Linked DNA regions of Homo sapiens: region 1 is linked to region 2. The links come from fine-mapping of genetic effects on gene expression. A gene starts in region 2. The other region holds a variant in brackets. All regions are shown on one strand. Distances are from middle to middle.

Region 1 (8,329 bases), 28 kb before region 2:
TCACTCATTTATTCCCAATTTCCCCATCTTTTGTTGAGGAAGCTCAACTCACTGGAGAAAAAAACAGTCTTGGTTTTTTCCAATCCTGCCTCGTTCATCCGTGTGAAAACCCTGTCCATGCTGAGTTTCAGGCCCCTGTGACTCAGATTCCGCAGCCCCCGTCACATTCAGGACAGCTCAACCCTCCTTCCGTTTTCAGATTCTGCCTTGTCCTTTTCTGGGGTCACCTTTTTCCTCTTTTTCTATTGACATTTAATAAGTCAGTGTACAGTATCAATGAATTTTGACAATTGTACAAAGCCAGGTAGCCGCCACCAGGATCAAGACACAGAACATTTTTGTCAGTCCAGCAGGTTCCCCCACGTGCCTTCAGCCATTGCCCAAAGCCCCCGGCTCCCACCCAGGTGACCTCTGCTCTGATGTGCAGCACCACGGACTGGATGCACCTGTTTCCGAATTCCTTATAAATGGAGCCATGCAGTGTGGACGCTTTTGTGTCCAGCTTCTCTCTCTCAGCATCATGTCTTGGAGATCCATACATGTTGTTCAGTGTATCACTAAGCCCTTTCTTTTTAACTGCATAGTTATATTCCTTGGGATGAGTAAACCACATCTGCTTACTCATCCACCTGTTGCTGGACATTTGGATTGTCCAGCAACAATGTTTCCAATACTGGTCCTGCCTACAAGGTCCTTCCTTGACCCTGCCTACAAAGGGCACTTTTACATATCACTGGGACCAGCACCCAGGTGATGTGAATTCTCTGCCTGAACCCTGCCTACAAAGAGCATTGTGGCTTATGTCTAGGTCCATTATGTAAGTGATGTGACTCCCTTCTACTGCCTTGGCCCTGTACTTATGTTGCATTGTGTGACACACACTTGGTGATATGGTTTAGATTTGTGTCCCCACCCAAATCTCATGTCAAATTGGAGGAGGGGCCTGCTGGGAGGCGACTGATATGGGACTGTGATGCACAAGGCTGCTATAAACCTTCTTGTACAAGTCGCATACATATATTTTTATTTTTCCTAACTAAATACTTAGGACCAAAACTGTGCACTCACTGTATAGGTGTGTGTTGAACTTTTATAGGGAACAACCAAGCAGCTTTCCGAAAAAGCAGGCAGCTTTCCAAAAGTGGTTCAATCACTTTGCTGCAGCCAGCAGTGTAGAAGAGTTCCAGTTGCTCCTCTGCCTTCTCGACATTTGGTATTGTCTGTTTTTTTGGGTTTTGTTTTTTGTTTTTTTAGCTATTCTGTATATGTGAAGTGATACATCACTGAGGATTTCATTTGCATTTCCCTCATAACTGAAGATATTGAACACATTTTCATGCATGTATTGGATATTCGTATGCTTTATTTTATCAAATGTTCAAATCTTTTTCCTATTTTTTAAACTGGGCTTTTGCATTTTGGTTATGAATATACAGGAATTTATATATCATGGATACAAGTACCTTGTCAGATACATGTCCTATGACTATTTTCCCCAAGGTTGTGGCTGCCTGTACATTTTCTCAATGATATTTTTTATGGATGGACATAAAATTTTAACTTTGGCAAACTCCAATTTATCTATTTCTTTTTTTAGTTTTACAATTAGTATTTTCTAGGTTCTGTCTGAAAAATTTTTGCCTACCCCAAGGACAAGAAGATATCCTCCTACATTTTCATCTGGCTTTCACATTTGGATCTATGATCCATTTCAAGTTTATTTTTATGGACAGCAGGGGTTCTCCACGTGTGCTTCCCAGACTAGCAGCATAAACATCACCAGGTGATATGGTTTGAATCTGTCTCCCCACTTAAATCTCATGTCAAATTGGAGGAGGGGCCTGGTGGGAGGTGATTTGTTCATGGGGCCAGATTTCTCCCTTGCTGTTCTCTTGATGTTGAGTGAGTTCACACAAGATCTGATGGTTTAAAAGTGTGTGGCACTTCTCCCTTCACTCCCTCTCTCCTGCCACCATGTGAAGAAGGTGCTTGCTTCTCCCTTCACCTTCCGCCATGATTGTAAGTTTCCTGAGGTCTCCCAGTCATGCTTTCTATTAAGCCTGTGAACTGTGAGTCTGTTAAATCTCTTTTCTTCATAAATTACCCAGTCTCAGGTAGTTCTTTACAGCAGGGTGAGAACAGACTGATACACCTGGGGACTTGGTAAAAATGCAAATGCTCATGCCTCACACAAGACTTACTGAATCAGAAACTCTGTGGGCGGGGCCCAGAAATCTGGATTTTAATTAGCCCTCCTTGGGATCCTGCTGCACACTAACGTGTGAGGACCACATGTGTATGGTATGATGTAAGAACTAAGGTCCATTATTTTTCATACTAATACCCAGTTTTTCCAGCACCATTTTTTTCAAGTCTCTCCTTTGGTCCTTGATTAAATGTGGCAACTTGTTGAAAATAAACGGATCATATATGTGGGATTTGTTGATCTGTGCAAGTCAATCTATTCATTCTTTCACCAAAACCACACTGTCTTGATTATGATAGCTTTTTAGTAAGTCTTGAAATTGAGTAGTGTACACACATCCACCTTGTTCTTTTTCAAGATCGTTTTGGCTGTTCTAAATCCTTTGCATATGCATATACATTTTAGAATCATCTTGTCAATTTCTTCTTCCCTCCCCTGCAAAATAGCCTACTAGGAGTTTGATTAAAATTGTTTAGAATTTATAGATCAACTTGAGGAAATGGACATCTTAAATATACTGAATATTACATCCATGAATATGGTATATCTCTCCATGTCTTTACTTTCTTTCTCTCAGCCATGTTTGTAGTTTTCAATGTAGAGTTTTCTTCCACATCTTTGATTAGGTTAATTCTAGATTTTTATATCATGAATTATATTACGGTTTTAATGTCATTTTCTTATTGTTCATTATTATAGAAATACAATTTCATATGTTTATTTTGAGTCATGTGACCTTGACAAATTCACTTATAAGTACTAAGGTTGTATGTTTATATAATTATTCATCTGTAACAATAGTTTTACTTTTTTTCTGATCTGAATATCTTTTATTTCTTCTTCTTATCTTATTGCACTAAGACCTGCAGAACAAAGTTGAATATAAGTGGTGAGAGTGGCCATACTTCCACCCAAGGCAATCATGGGGAAATAATTTGATGTTTCACCATTAAATATGATGTTATCTGTAGGCTTTTCATAGATGCCCTTTATCAGAGTAAGGAAGTTCCCTTCATTCCTAGTATGCTGACATTTTTAAAAAATTATAAATGGGTACTGGGTTCTGCTAAATTCTTTTTCTGGAACTATTAAGATGATCACATCATTGTTCTCCTCATGTTGTTAATGTAGTGAATTACACTGATTAATTTTTTAGATGTTAAACTTGCATACATAATAAGCCCTACTTTGTCGTGAGTTAGTATCCATTTTATATATTTTTTATTCAACTTATAAATATTTTGTTAAAGATTTTTGCATCTATATTTGTGAGTAATATTTCTGTAATTTTCTTTCCTTG[G/A]AATCATCAGATTTGGAATCAGAGTTGTGCTCCTAAAATACACTGGAAAGTAGTCTCTCTTCCTCTGTTTCCTGAAAGTGTGTGTGTAAAATTGGTATTACTTATTTCTTAAATGTTTGGCAGAATTCACTAATGAAATAATGTGAGTCTGGGGTTTTCTTTGTGAGAAAGCATTTGATAATGAATTCAATTTCTTTAACAGATATAAAATCTATTACAATTTCTTATTAGTTTTTATTTATGTTTCTTCATCTGCATCCTAATAATTTTGCATGTTGTGTTTTTATTATTAGTCAATTCAAACTATTTTCTCTTTCCCCATGTGATTTATTCTTTGCCCCGTGGATTATTTGGACATATATGGCCTAACTTCCAAATAGGGTTTTCTAAATGTCTAATTGTTATCAATTTCTAACATAATTCCATCACGATCGGAGGACATACTCTGTATTATTTGAATGGATTTAAATGTATTATGTCCCAGTCTGTTGTCTATCTTGAACACATCAAAAGAATGTGTATTATGCTATTGCTGAGTGCATTGTTCTATAAATATAAATTAAATCAAGTTGCTTAGTAGTGCTGTTTAAATCTTCTAAGTCCTTACTGGGGTTTTTTTGTGTGTTGATTTATTTCTTTGATTGGTTGTTTTTGTCTACTTGCTGCATCAGTCAGTGACAGAAGGGCATTACAATCTCTAGCTGTGATAATGGAATTGTCTGTTTCTTCCACTAGATCTCCCCTTAGTTTCTTCCACAGCCAATTTTTGCTTCATGTGTTTTGAATTTCTATTATTAGGTGTATATATATTTAGTATTTTATTTCTTCATGAGGAATTGGTATTTTATCATTATAAAACATCTCCTCTTATCTCTAGCAATACTCTTTTTTGATATCTACTTTTTTGATATCTACTTTTTTGATACTGATATAGCCACTTCCATTTTCTTATGCTTAGTGTTTCCGTGGTATATCCTTTTCATATATTTACCTTCAACTTGTCTATGTCTGCTTATTTAAAGTGTGTGCCACCATGATCAAGTGGGTTTCATACCAGGGATGCAGGGATGGTTTAACATACATAAGTCAATAAATATGATATACCACATAAACAGAATTAAAAACAAAAATCACATGATCATCTCAATAGACGCAGAAAAAGCGTTTGACAAAATCCAGCATCCCTTTATGATTAAAACCCTCAGGAAAGTCGGCATTGAAGGGACATACCTTAAGGTAATAAAAGCCATCTATGACAAACCCATAGCCAACATTACAGTGAATGGGGAAAAGTTGAAAGCATTCACCCTGAGAACTGGAAGAAGACAAGGATGCCCACTCTTACCACTTCTATTCAACACAGAACTGGAATTCTTAGCCGGAGCAATCAGACAAGAGAAAGAAATAAAAGGCATCCAAATCAGTAAAGAGGAAGTCAAACTCTCACTGTTTTCCGATGATATAATCATATACCTAAAGACTCCTCCCAAAACCTCCTAGATCTGGTAAATGAATTCAGCAAAGTTTCGGGATACAAAATTAGTGTACACAAATCAGTAGCTCTGCTGTACACCAACAGGGACTAAGCTGAGAATCAAATCAAGAATTCAACCCCTTTCACAATAGATGCAAAAAAAAATACTTAGGAATATGCCTAACCAAGGATGTGAAAGACTTCTACAAGGAAAACTACAAAACACTGCTGAAAGAAATCATAGACGACACAAACAAATGGAAACACATCCTATGCTCATGGACGAGTAGAATCAATATTGTGGAAATGGCCATACTGCCAAAATCAATACACAAATTCAATGCAATTCCCATCAAAATATCATCACCATTCTTCACAGAACTAGAAAAAAATCCTAAATTTCATATGGAACCAAAAAAGAAGCCACAGAGCCAAAGCAAGAACATGCAAAAAGCAAATCTGGAGGCATCACATTACCCAACTTCAAACTATACTATAAGGTAACAGTTACCAAAACAGCATGGTACTGGTATAAAAATAGGCACATAGACCAATGAAACAGAATAGAGAACCCAGAAATAAACCCAAATACTTACAGTCAACTGATGTTCGACAAAACAATCAAAAACATAAAGTAAAGAAAGGACACTCTATTCAAGAAATGGTGCTGGGATAATTGTCAAGCCACATGTAGAAGAATGAAACTGTGTTTCTTTTTGTTAGTTTTAGTGATTACCCTAAAATTATGATATGCACAGTCTATATCCAAATATTATATTACTTCACAAACAATGTAAGACCCTTCCAGCAATACATTCCATTCATCCCTTGCTATGTTTCGAATGTGTCCCCTCCAAAATGTAGGTGTTGAAACTTACTAATTGTGATAGTATTAAGAGATGGGACCTTTAAGAGGTGATTTAGGCCATAAGGGTTCCACCCTCATCAGCGAGATTAAAGCCTTTATGAAAGGGGCTTGCAGCATCATTTGTGTCTCACTTTCCCTTATGCCTTCCACCATGTGAAGGTGCAGCATTCTTCTCATCCGGAAAATGCAGCATCAAGGCACAGCCTTGGAAGCAGAGAGTAGTCCTTGATAGACAGCTGAACCTGCCAGCACCTTGATTTTGGACTTCCCAGTCTCTAGAACTGTGAGAAGATAAATTAATAAATTTCTGTTCTTTATAAATTACCCAGTCTCAGGTACTTTGTTATAGCAGCACAAATTTACTAAGACATCTCTTCCATACTTTTTGCTCTTGTTGTTCTATATTTTATTTCTGTGTGTGTTGTTATAAACCGTACATTACTTTATTAATACTTTTTACTTTTAAATGATTATTTTTAACCATTCACACACACACACTCAATCATCTTTTCACAAACATTTCAGTTATTTGGTAACATTCTTTTCCTTCTTGAGTATGTTTTTAAACATATTAATTACAATACTTTTTGGGTCTTTGTCTGATAACTCTAACATCTGGATCCCCTAATGAGCTATTTCTATTGTCTTTTATTTATTTATTTTCAGTAGTTTGGCCTTGTCTCCTAGTATGCTTAATATTGTTTGTTTTTTTATTATGCTTAATAATTTTTGATTGAATGACAGACTTTGTGTTTTTGTAGATATAATTCATAGAGATAATTTAAGGCTTTGAATGATATAAGCTTCTTCTAGAGGGAATTTGCTTTTGACTTTGGGAAATCAGAATAGGGATAAATTGCCTTTATCCAGTCCAGGATTTAGCTGCTTTGTAACTGTACTTCAGTCTTTTGTGAGGAGTCGTCTATTTCTGGCTTATCCCAGGGTATAATATAACTCTCCTATGTTCCTAATGGGAAATCTCAGGTGTTTACCAGGGTTCCTACTCTTTAGTTAGCCCTAAACTCCAGGTTTTATTTTCTTTTTATTTATTGTCTTTTTTTTATTATCTTTATTTCAGATAGGACTTTCAAAAGTACTATCTGACTTCTCAGACTGTCAGCTGCTATTTTTTTGTTCAGATTCGTAGTCTCCTGGTCCTTTACTACTTCTGAATTATAAAAAATACATACTTTTTCAAAGCAGTACCATTTATTTTATTTTCTGAGACAGGGTCTTTGTTGCCCAGGCTGGAGTGCAGTGGCATGACCATGGTTCACTGCAGCCTCGACCTTCTGGGCTCAAGTGATCCTCCCACATCAGCCTCCCGAGTAGCTGGGACTACAGGCACACATGACCACGCCCAGCTAATTTTTGTGTTTTTTGTAGAAATGGGGTTTTGCCATGTTGCCCAGGCTGGTCTCAAACTCCTGGGTTCAAGTGATCCACCTGCCTCAGCCTCCCAAAGTGCTGGGATTTTGCGCTCAGCCAGCAGTACCATTTTTTAAAATCGCAATATACAATCTCAGGCTTACCTCAAGGCATTTCCTTGCTCTCTGATATCCGCTCTTCTTTTCGTTCCCCGGCTGCTTTGGTATATCTGAACTCTAAGTTATATCTCTTCAATCTCATAAGCCTGCTGAAATCTTAGGCCATGTTCCCAGTCTTTTAGCTAAAGCTTTTTTTTTTTTTTTTTAATTTTTAAGCAGAGTCTTGCTCTGTCGCCCAGGATGGAGTGCAATGGGGTGATCTCGGCTCACTGCAACCTCCGCCTCCTGGGTTCAAGCAATTCTCCTGCCTCAGCCTCCTGAGTAGCTGGGATTACAGGCATATGCCCGGCTAATTTTTGTATTTTTAGTAGAGATGGGGTTTCGCCATGTTGGCCAGGTTGGTCTCGAACTCCCGAGCTCAGGTGATCTGCCCACCTCGGCCTCCCTAAGTGCTGGGATTACAGGCATTAGCCACCAAGCCCGGCCTAAAGCTTTATTCTTGGATACTGAGGCTCTACACCCCCTGTCACTTAGGACTTGGCAGATACCTCAAAGGGGAAATCTGTTGTATTCATAGAATTTCAGACTCACTTTAATATATTTCTCTCTGTAGCCTGAACACCTGGGACCTGACTGCGTTAGTATCTCTCTAATGCTTTTAAACAGATTATTGGATTGTACGTTGTATTGCTTTTCTAGTTGCTTTAGATGGGAGGGTTGGTTTTCAACAACCCACCTCACCATTATCAGAAGCAGAAAGTCCTGGTTTTTACTTTTGAAGAATGTTTTCGCTGGGTATAGAATACTAAAATAGCCATTATTTTCTTTCAGAAATTTAATGAAGTCATTCCATCATCTTCTGGCCTTCATTGTTGCATAGAAAGCAAATGTCAGTCTTGTTCATTTCACGCCTATGTGTCTTTTTCCCTTTGTTTTTTAAAAAACATTTTTCTTTATCTTTGGTATTCAGAAACTTTACTAAGTTGTATATATG
Region 2 (8,329 bases):
CTAGGCAGGGGCGTCCTGTTGACTTGGGCCCCACTGATGGTGGGGTAGACATGCCAAGCAGGCCTCCCGCTGCCCAGTCCAAGAGGTCTGCAATGCTGGCCAGTGCGAGGGATGGCTGAGGACATGGACACACCTGTCCCTGCCCACAGGGAGTTCCCATCCAGCAGGCAAGATAGGTCACAGGTGGCCTCCAGGAGGTGGTGCAGAGCTGGGGAGCAGAGGGAGGCCAACGGCCTGGCTGGGGCTCTAGAAAGGCCCCTGTGGGGCAGCTGGGCAGGATGGCACAGCCCTCACAGCAGGTGGCAGAGGTACCAGGCTAGGCTGGATGTTGAGCGTCCGGGAGTGTGACAGAGAGGGGGAGACAGGGAGGGATGAGGTGAGGAGGGGCTGAAGAGGTGGATAGTGGACAGGGGCCATGCGGCCGGCACCGGGACCTGGGTGGACATATGTCTGTAAGGTGACAGGGAACCCTGCAGAGGCTGAGTTTGAGGACACTGTGCAGAGTCAAGACTGGGGCCAGTGCCTCACTAGGGGAGGCAGAGACCTGCTGGGCAGCTGTGCTGGCCCCACCAGGAGGTGCGGGGGCCCCAGCCTGTGGCACCCTCGTCAGTTTTAAGCGGTCCAAGGAGGAGAAGGAGCAGAAGCTGCTCATCCTGGAGGAGGCCCAGGCGGCGTTGCAGCAGGAGGCCAGTGCACTGCGGGCCCACCTGTGGGAGCTGGAGCAGGCAGGGGGGGACGCCCGTCAGGAGCTCCGGGAACTCCACAGACAGGTAGGGCGGCAGGGAGGGGTCAACATCCAACCAGGCACCCTCCCGCCTGGTGGGTCCCGGCTCCTCCCAGGGGAGCCCCCAGCCCTGGCCTTGCTGCCGCCTTTGAACCACTCTGTCCCCAGACTTTGGGCCACGCCCTGCTCAGGCTCACAGGGTCCCTGGTTGGGTCTGTCCCCATGGGGCACAGATGACAAGACTGGAGAGGGCAAAACCAGGAATGCTTTAGCGAGGAGGAAGGGAACCATGCCCAGCAGCACACGGAAGTATCCTACATGCAACACCTTCCGGCATGCACAGCAGCACACGGAAGTATCCTACATGCAACACCTTCCGGTGGCGCTCGGGAACTCAGGCAGGCTAGAGGGGAGGCCTGGCCTCTGCAGGGCAGGGTGCTGGCAAGCCGGGTCCCCCCAAGGCCTGGCTCCCTCCTGTAATGGCGGCCTCGGGGCAGTTGGGTCCAATGCACCCCAGCCACTGCCCACACTCCCTAATCAGTGCCCACCCCGCCCCACCTGAGCCTCCTCCTTGTCCCAGGTCCTCCAAGGAGGTTCCGAGGAGGTCCCAGGTAGGTGTCTACAGAGTGGCTGAGGGTGACAACTCCCAGGGCAAGGTCCTTTGGGGCACCTTAGCCCAAGCCTCCCTAAGTGTGGCCAGCTGCCCTCAAGGGACGTGTGAGCGGAGGCAGGAGGCAGGGAGGCTGCCTGGGTTCCAGCACAGAGACCAGTGACCCTGTCCGTGCGGCCCCACGCTCCCAGGTGAGGACACTGAAGGCCGAGAACCAGAGGAGGAGTGGAGAGGCCCATGAGCTGCAGGCGCAGTGCTCGCAGGAGGTGCTGGAGCTGCGGAGGCAGGCAGCCAAGGCAGAGGCCAAGCACGAGGGTGCCCGGAAGGAGGTGGGAGGGCTGCCTGTGGTCAGAAGGGAAGGAGCTGGGCGTCGGGGAGCAGAGGGAGGAGGCCCACCCCACTTCCTCACTGTCTCCCACGGGCGCACCCCAACATCCCTCCTACAGGTCCTGGGATTGCAGAGGAAGTTGGCAGAGGTGGAGGCCGCAGGGGAGGCCCATGGACAGCGGCTCCAGGAGCACCTCCGTGAGAGCCGGGGGGCTGAGCAGACCCTCCGAGCAGAGCTGCACAGTGTCACCAGGAAGCTGCAGGAAGCCAGTGGTGTGGCTGATGCTCTCCAGGCTCGCCTGGACCAGGCCTGTCACCGAATCCACAGCCTGGAGCAGGAGCTGGCCCAGGCTGAGGGTGCAAGGCAGGATGCGGAGGCCCAGCTGGGCCGGCTGTGCTCCACGCTCCGCCGTGGCCTGGGGCTCCAGAGACAGAGCCCGTGGGCCTCCCCGGAGCAGCCTGGTTCCCCCACCAAAGGTCAGAGTCCTCAGTGGAGGCAGGCGGGCCCCTCTCCCAGCTCAGTCCCTGGCCTGGCACCTCTCTTTCAGGCCTCACAACTCACACAGTGAGGGACTCGGACAGGCAATTGTAGGAACCTGTGGCCGTCTCCCCAACCTCCCATGGCTGGGGCAGCAGAGAGGAAAGGGGAAGGGCGTGTATCTGTCACTGTGTTCCTGTCCACGACCCCTCCGCTGTCACCTCCCGCAGGCTCCGACAGCTCCCAGGCTCTCCCTGGGCAACAGGGTACCAGCCCCCCAGCCAGGCCCCACTCGCCCCTCCGATGGCCCTCGCCCACACCCGGAGGCCGCAGCTCAGAGCTCATGGATGTGGCCACCGTGCAGGACATCCTGCGGGACTTTGTGCAGAAGCTCCGGGAAGCCCAGCGGGAGCGGGTAATGGGGGCTGGGGTCCTCCCGCCCACGGCGGCACCCCCCGGGGGTCTCTGGGAAGAACACCTGCTGTCCATCCATCCGCGCGTCCCTGGGTCTGAGGGTCAGTGTCCAGGCCGTCCTGTTTGTTGTGATAAACACCAGCACCACCATGGCCCCCAAGCCCAAGTGCCTTGGGTGGCTGGAGGCCGCCCCCTTCCTTATACCAGGCTGAAAAGCCCCTGGAGCCAGGCCCTGCTGTGACACCCACCAGGGCCCAGGGTAGGGCATTCTGCAACTCATGCCACCCCTGAAGAGCTGCCGGGGCTGGGCAACTGCAGGACAGAGCCAGCAAGCTCCCCTCAATGCTCCCAAAGACCCCTCCGGTGGGGCCAAGCTCCCCAGTGGCTGCTCCTGGCTTCAGGGCTCCCACAGAACCACCCGTGAGCGGCCCCCTCCCACCTCGCTGGATGACTCCAGTGGGCAGGACTGTGGGAAAGACAGAGGCAGGCCCTGAGCCCTGGCCAGGGTCCTCTGTGCACACTCCTTCCCTTCGGGCCCACCCTCCCACCGCTGCCAGCCCCAGGGGGCAGGGTCCCGTCTGCACTCAGCCCCAAGTCCCGCCAGGGGCAGCCCCTACCGGTCCCCCTGACCACAGGCTGTGGGCCGCCACCTGCCAGCTCTCCCACACCACACCTGTGCTTGAAACCTGGACCCTTTAGGCCGAGTCTCACTGGGCGCCTCCACCTCCCCAGGCCTGCAGGTCAGCGCAGCTTCCCAGTGTGATCACCTTCCCCGCACCTTCCCCGAGCCCACGGCCCACACCACCCACTGCCCTGCCCTGCACACCTGCAGGCCAGACCGTGAGCGGCCCCAGCTGGCCCCGACCCTCTAGCAGACACCTTGGCCCTCCACCCGCCCATTGGACTGCCCCCGCTGACCTCAGTCCTTCTGCCCAGGATGACTCCCGCATCCAGATGGCGACCCTGAGCAGCCGGCTGAGCGAGGCAGAGTGCAGGTGTGCCCGGGCCCAGAGCCGCGTGGGGCAGCTGCAGAAAGCCCTGGCTGAGGCGGAAGAAGGTGACCTCCCTTGCCCTGCCCCGCCCACCCTGGGAGTGGCTGTGAGAGTGGCACCACCATGTCCCCACTGCTGCCGGCTATAAGCTTTCAGTCCCTGGGGCAGCTCGGTGGGAAGGGAGCCTGGGGGCAACACCCAAACCACCAGGCCTGGCGAGGCTGGGTCAGCGCTTGGCATCGGAGTTCTCAGCAGCGACTTCCCCAGCACAGAGGAGTGACGTCCACAGGCCCATCAGGGCCCTCCCGATCCGGCCCCCAGCATCCTCTGCCCCCCTGCCCCACCCTGGCCTCCTGCAGTTCCCACTGGGGGCCTTTGCCCTGGCTGTGCCCTCTGCCTGGCACCCTCTCCCCCAGACAGCCACACGGCTCTCCCCGGGCAGGCCCTGCCCCTCGTCACCCCCTCAGAGAGGCCCCTTCCTTCTGCCCCCCACTGCCTCACACTCACGAGTTTCTCTGCTTATTGCCCCTCAATTAAAGGAAAGAGGCAGGAGGGAAGGATGGGTGGGAAGCCGGGACCCTGGGGCAGCCCCAGGACCCTTGAGCTGCAAGGATGGACCCCCACCTCCACGTGGGAGCCAGTCACTCAAGTCCACAGAGCCCTGCATTGCCTGCCTGTGACCTGGGAGGGGCATGGGGGCCCCTCAAGCCACCCTGCTTGCCCCACAGGCCAGCGCCGGGTGGAGGGCGCGCTGAGCAGCGCCCGGGCAGCACGTGCCCTGCAGAAGGAGGCGCTCCGCAGGCTGGAGTTGGAGCACCTGGCGAGCGTGCGTGCGGCAGGCCAGGAGAAGCGGCGGCTGCAGGTGGGGCAGGCGGCAGGGTGGGTCCCAGGTGGGGCACAAGAACAAGGCCTCTCGGTCACCCTCACACCCTGCAGGGAGGCCACAGGGCCGGGAGGTGGGAGAGAGGGGTCTGCAAGGGCTTCTGTGGGTGTTCGGGGCTGGAGCCAGCCCGGTGGGGCCCTGGGGCAGAGGTGCAGGCTGGGCTGTGGCAGGCGGCTTTGGGGTCATCGGGACTGGGGTCGTCCTTAGCAGAGCTGTCCTTACGGTGGTTCTAGCCCTTGTTTTACAGGTTGGGGAAACTGAGGACTTGGCCCTGGGGGCACAGCGAGTGGGGGGCAGAGCCCCAAGTCTAGGCCCTTTCTTCTTGCTGAGGCCACAGCGGCAGGCATGGGGCGGCCCTGGCCCAGCCTTGGGGCTCTTTATAGGGTCACACTGTCCTGCTCCAAGACCACTTTTCATTCCATGTGGCTCAGACACAGAAGGGGCCTCTCAGGAAGGGCTGAAGTCAGTGTCCCTACATGCCAGGCTTTGTGCTGGGGAGGTGCCCGCTGGGTCTGAGGTTTTCAGGTGAGGAGCCTGGGCCTGGAAATGGAACGGCCAGGCAGTGGTGGATGGAGGCCTGGCCCAGGCCTTGGTCCTCAGTGCTGGTGGGGAGCCCCAGGCCCAGCCAGCCCAGCCCCACAGGTCCAAGCAGCCCCCGGGGTGTCCTGAGATCCTCTTGTCAGGACTGGGCCAGGGGACAACTGTTCCGCTCCAGAGAGCTCCCTTGCAGGCCCCAGGGGCCAGAGAACAGCGTGCCTGGCTGAGGCTCCCCAGGGCAACTGCCCCCAGGCGTCCCTCAACCCATTCTGGAAAGAGGGGGCCAGCACAGTGCAGAGGAGACAGGGCACAGAGACCGGGGAGCCACTCCTCTCCAAGTGTCCCTCCAATGAGGGAGGCCTGGGTGAGCCATCAGGAGGGACGGCCTTGCAGGTTGGCAGAAAGGCCCCAAGGGCAGCCGGCCAGGCCTGTGCTGTTCCACGCGGGGCTCAGCCCCGGAGCCTGGTGGCCCTCAGAGGCCACCAGAGGGCTGTCAGCACTCAGACTAGCAGGCAGGCTCTGAGTTCCCAGTAGGCCCTGAGCCTCTGAGGAGGTGGCTTCTGCAGGGGAGAGGGGAGGGGGCAGAGAGCAGAGGCCAGGCTGCAGAGAGAGCAAGGTCCTCATTAGCCAGCAGTTTGGAAATTTCTGTTTTGGAAAGACCCTTCTGGTGACAGCTGCTGGGGCAGTAAGACTAGAGACGTCTGTGGAAAGACCCAGGCGGCCTGGCCAGGGATGGGGTCAGGACTTGTGAGATGCCCAGGAGATGGGGGCACCTGAGAAGTCAGGGGACCTGGAGCGGGCTGAGTTGGGCCAAGTTTCATTTTATGTGTATAGTCACATGTATGTCTCCCACATGCATGCAGAAATAACGTGCTCTGCTCACAGGTTACACATTTTGAAAGAGACCTTCTATTTTATTTTATTTTTTGAGATGGAGTCTCATTCTGTCACCCAGGCTGGAGTGCAGTGGCACCATCTTGGCTCACAGCAACCTCCGCCTCCCAGGTTCAAGTGATTCTCCTGCCTCAGCTTCCCAAGTAGTCGGGATTACAGGCACCCGCCAATACACCTAATTTTTTTGTATTTTTAGTAGAGACAGGTTTCACACCATGTTGGCCAGACTGGTCTTGAACTCCTGACCTTAAATGATCTGCCTGCCTCAGCTTCCCAAAGTGCTGGGATTACAGGTGTGAGCCACCGTGCCCAGTTCTGAAATACACCTTTTAAATCAACCTTTACAAATGCATTATTCAAATAGGCCACATTTGATCCAGTTCCTGAATTTATCAAAACTAAGGATGATGTGTTGAATTTTCCCACTACAATTCTTTTTGTCAATGTCTCCTTTTATTTCCAAGGGTATTTGACTTCTAGATTTCTTGACTCTTCGAATTTGAAGTTTCTCGGTTAACTTTTCCTGAGTGGCCTGCATGTCCTGTGACTGCTGTTTGTCTTCCTCTTGGCCTCTGCTTTTTTGGTGTTTGTGGTTTCAGCCTTCATTTCATCAGCCTGGCTCTGGTTTCAATCTCACCTTAGAGTCTCTGCCTCTTCTGGGGGAATTTGTCCCATGTAGAAGTTTTGTGGTAACCCATGCTCTGTTTTTCCTTAGGTTGTTCATAGGACACTTTCTCCTTTCCGTGTGTCTTTCCTGCCTGTCCTGTCTTGCATGGCAGGGATGATTTATTCATCCTCTTTTCCCTTAGCATTTGCATCCAGGGCATCTTATGGCTGGGCCAGGACAGCGCCCTGCCCCCTCCAGGGGCCGAGGGTCTTGTCCCTTCCCTTCCCAGCTGCACTGCTTCCACCTGCGCCCTAGGAGCTAAGACTTTTGCTCCTTAGAATTTCCTGCTCTGGACAATCCCCTCTTCCAAACCTGCTCCCCAGGGGGGCTCTGGGCTCTCCTGCCTGTAGGTTGAACTTCTCTTGGTGTCTGTGGACCCCAGGGCTCTCTACCCACAGCAGCCCACACCTGGTGCACTACTTTTTGCAACAAATTACTGATGACTTAACCCCACTTTTGAGCCCCCAGTCCCATAGGTGAGAAGCCTGGCATGGTGTGACTGGCGTCTCCCCTCTGGGTCTCACAGTCATGGGGTAGGCTGGGCCACCCGAGGCCACGGGGAAGAGTCCTCCTCTGGGTTCATCCAGGTGCTTCTGGGGGCATCCGGGCTCATCCCAGCGTGGCGAGTCCAGCTCTTTGCGTTGTCGGGCTGAGCCTCATTTCTGTGCGGTCGGCCAAGGGCTCCCCACTCCTAGCCAGGGGCTTCCTTGGCTGTGCCACAGTGTGGCAGCAGCACCTGCACCCCACGCCCCCCATCTCCACGTGCCTCACACCTCATGGCTCCCTTCTGCCGACACCCGAGGGTGTGCGTGAGTGGGTGAGACCCACCTGGGTGGTCACCCTTTGCTTAACTCAGAGTCAACTCTTCACATCCACAAAGTCCCCTGGCCATGAATCCAACGTAATCACAGGATAACGTCAGGGCCAGAGCTCACAGGGCCCTCTGAGGGCTCTGCCTGCCACGTGGGTCCGAGCAACATGTTACCAGCTTTGGTGAACTCCATGCCGCTGGTTTGATGGGTGGGGCCGCTCATGGCATCTCTCCTGGAGGGGCCTGGCTTTCATTCGATTCCAGGCTCCTTGTTTGCCTCTGACCTTGAGTTCAGATGGGTTCAAGAAATGTGCGGATTCCCTGGGTTCTTTGTGTTTTTCTTGTCAGTGCTCTTTCCAGAGTGGCAGCCAGAGGCCTCCTTGTTTTTGAAATTCAAAAATGTCACCAAAATGTGGGCGTGTCGGCCCCTTTCATTATTTTTACCTACCCCGGCAAACCCTCCCTACTTGCAGAATCAAATCTACCTTCTGTTTACAGAGGTTCCTTCCACTGTAAAAAAAACATCTCTTCTCCTTCTCCCTCTTCTCTGTTCTTTTGTCCTGGAATTCTCAGCATCCCAATACTGATCCCCTGGACCTGTCCTCCTGGCTTCAATCTTGAATTTCTCCTTGTCATCTCGGTTTTCCCCAAGGTCCCAGGAGAATTTCAGGTCTTACTCCTACTCAGCTAATCTCAGGATCTGCCGCATCTCGTCTGCTGCTCCTGTCCCCACGGTGGCCTCGTTCGGCCTGAGTTTTCATTTTGGATTGTCCACCTCAAGACCCCTGCCCTGTCCTCACCTTGAGAACACTAGTTACCATCTTCTGGTGTGTGTCAGTAGCTCACTTCTCTGTTTAATTAGAGACTCTCAGATCTGATTCCTCAGATCGACTTTATTTTCTCAAACCCCAGTGGATACTAGTTTTGTGATTTTTTTCCTTTGCGTGTCTTTAAAGAAAGGAGTTCTGGCCTCGTTTGAAGTTGGGAGTGGA

The links.
Region 1: its variant is fine-mapped to the expression of UICLM in whole blood (TOPMed, PIP above 0.99). The same link has a PIP of 0.9 or more in blood mononuclear cells.

Annotation. Positions count from the first base shown.
Region 1 is chr2:240,935,959-240,944,287 of GRCh38, forward strand. All of the region lies in intron 14 of CROCC2 (ciliary rootlet coiled-coil, rootletin family member 2), which reads left to right. Among named protein-coding and RNA genes, the nearest start is that of UICLM, 27 kb to the right of the region's middle. The variant G/A (reference allele first, on the strand shown) is at 3,507.
Region 2 is chr2:240,963,856-240,972,184 of GRCh38, forward strand. It overlaps UICLM (up-regulated in colorectal cancer liver metastasis), which reads right to left and starts at 3,596. Exons shown (of 9, transcript NR_033841.1): 1 at 3,472-3,596; 2 at 134-321. It overlaps CROCC2 (ciliary rootlet coiled-coil, rootletin family member 2), which reads left to right. Exons shown (of 32, transcript NM_001351305.2): 22 at 611-770; 23 at 1,526-1,663; 24 at 1,781-2,138; 25 at 2,370-2,554; 26 at 3,490-3,610; 27 at 4,274-4,407.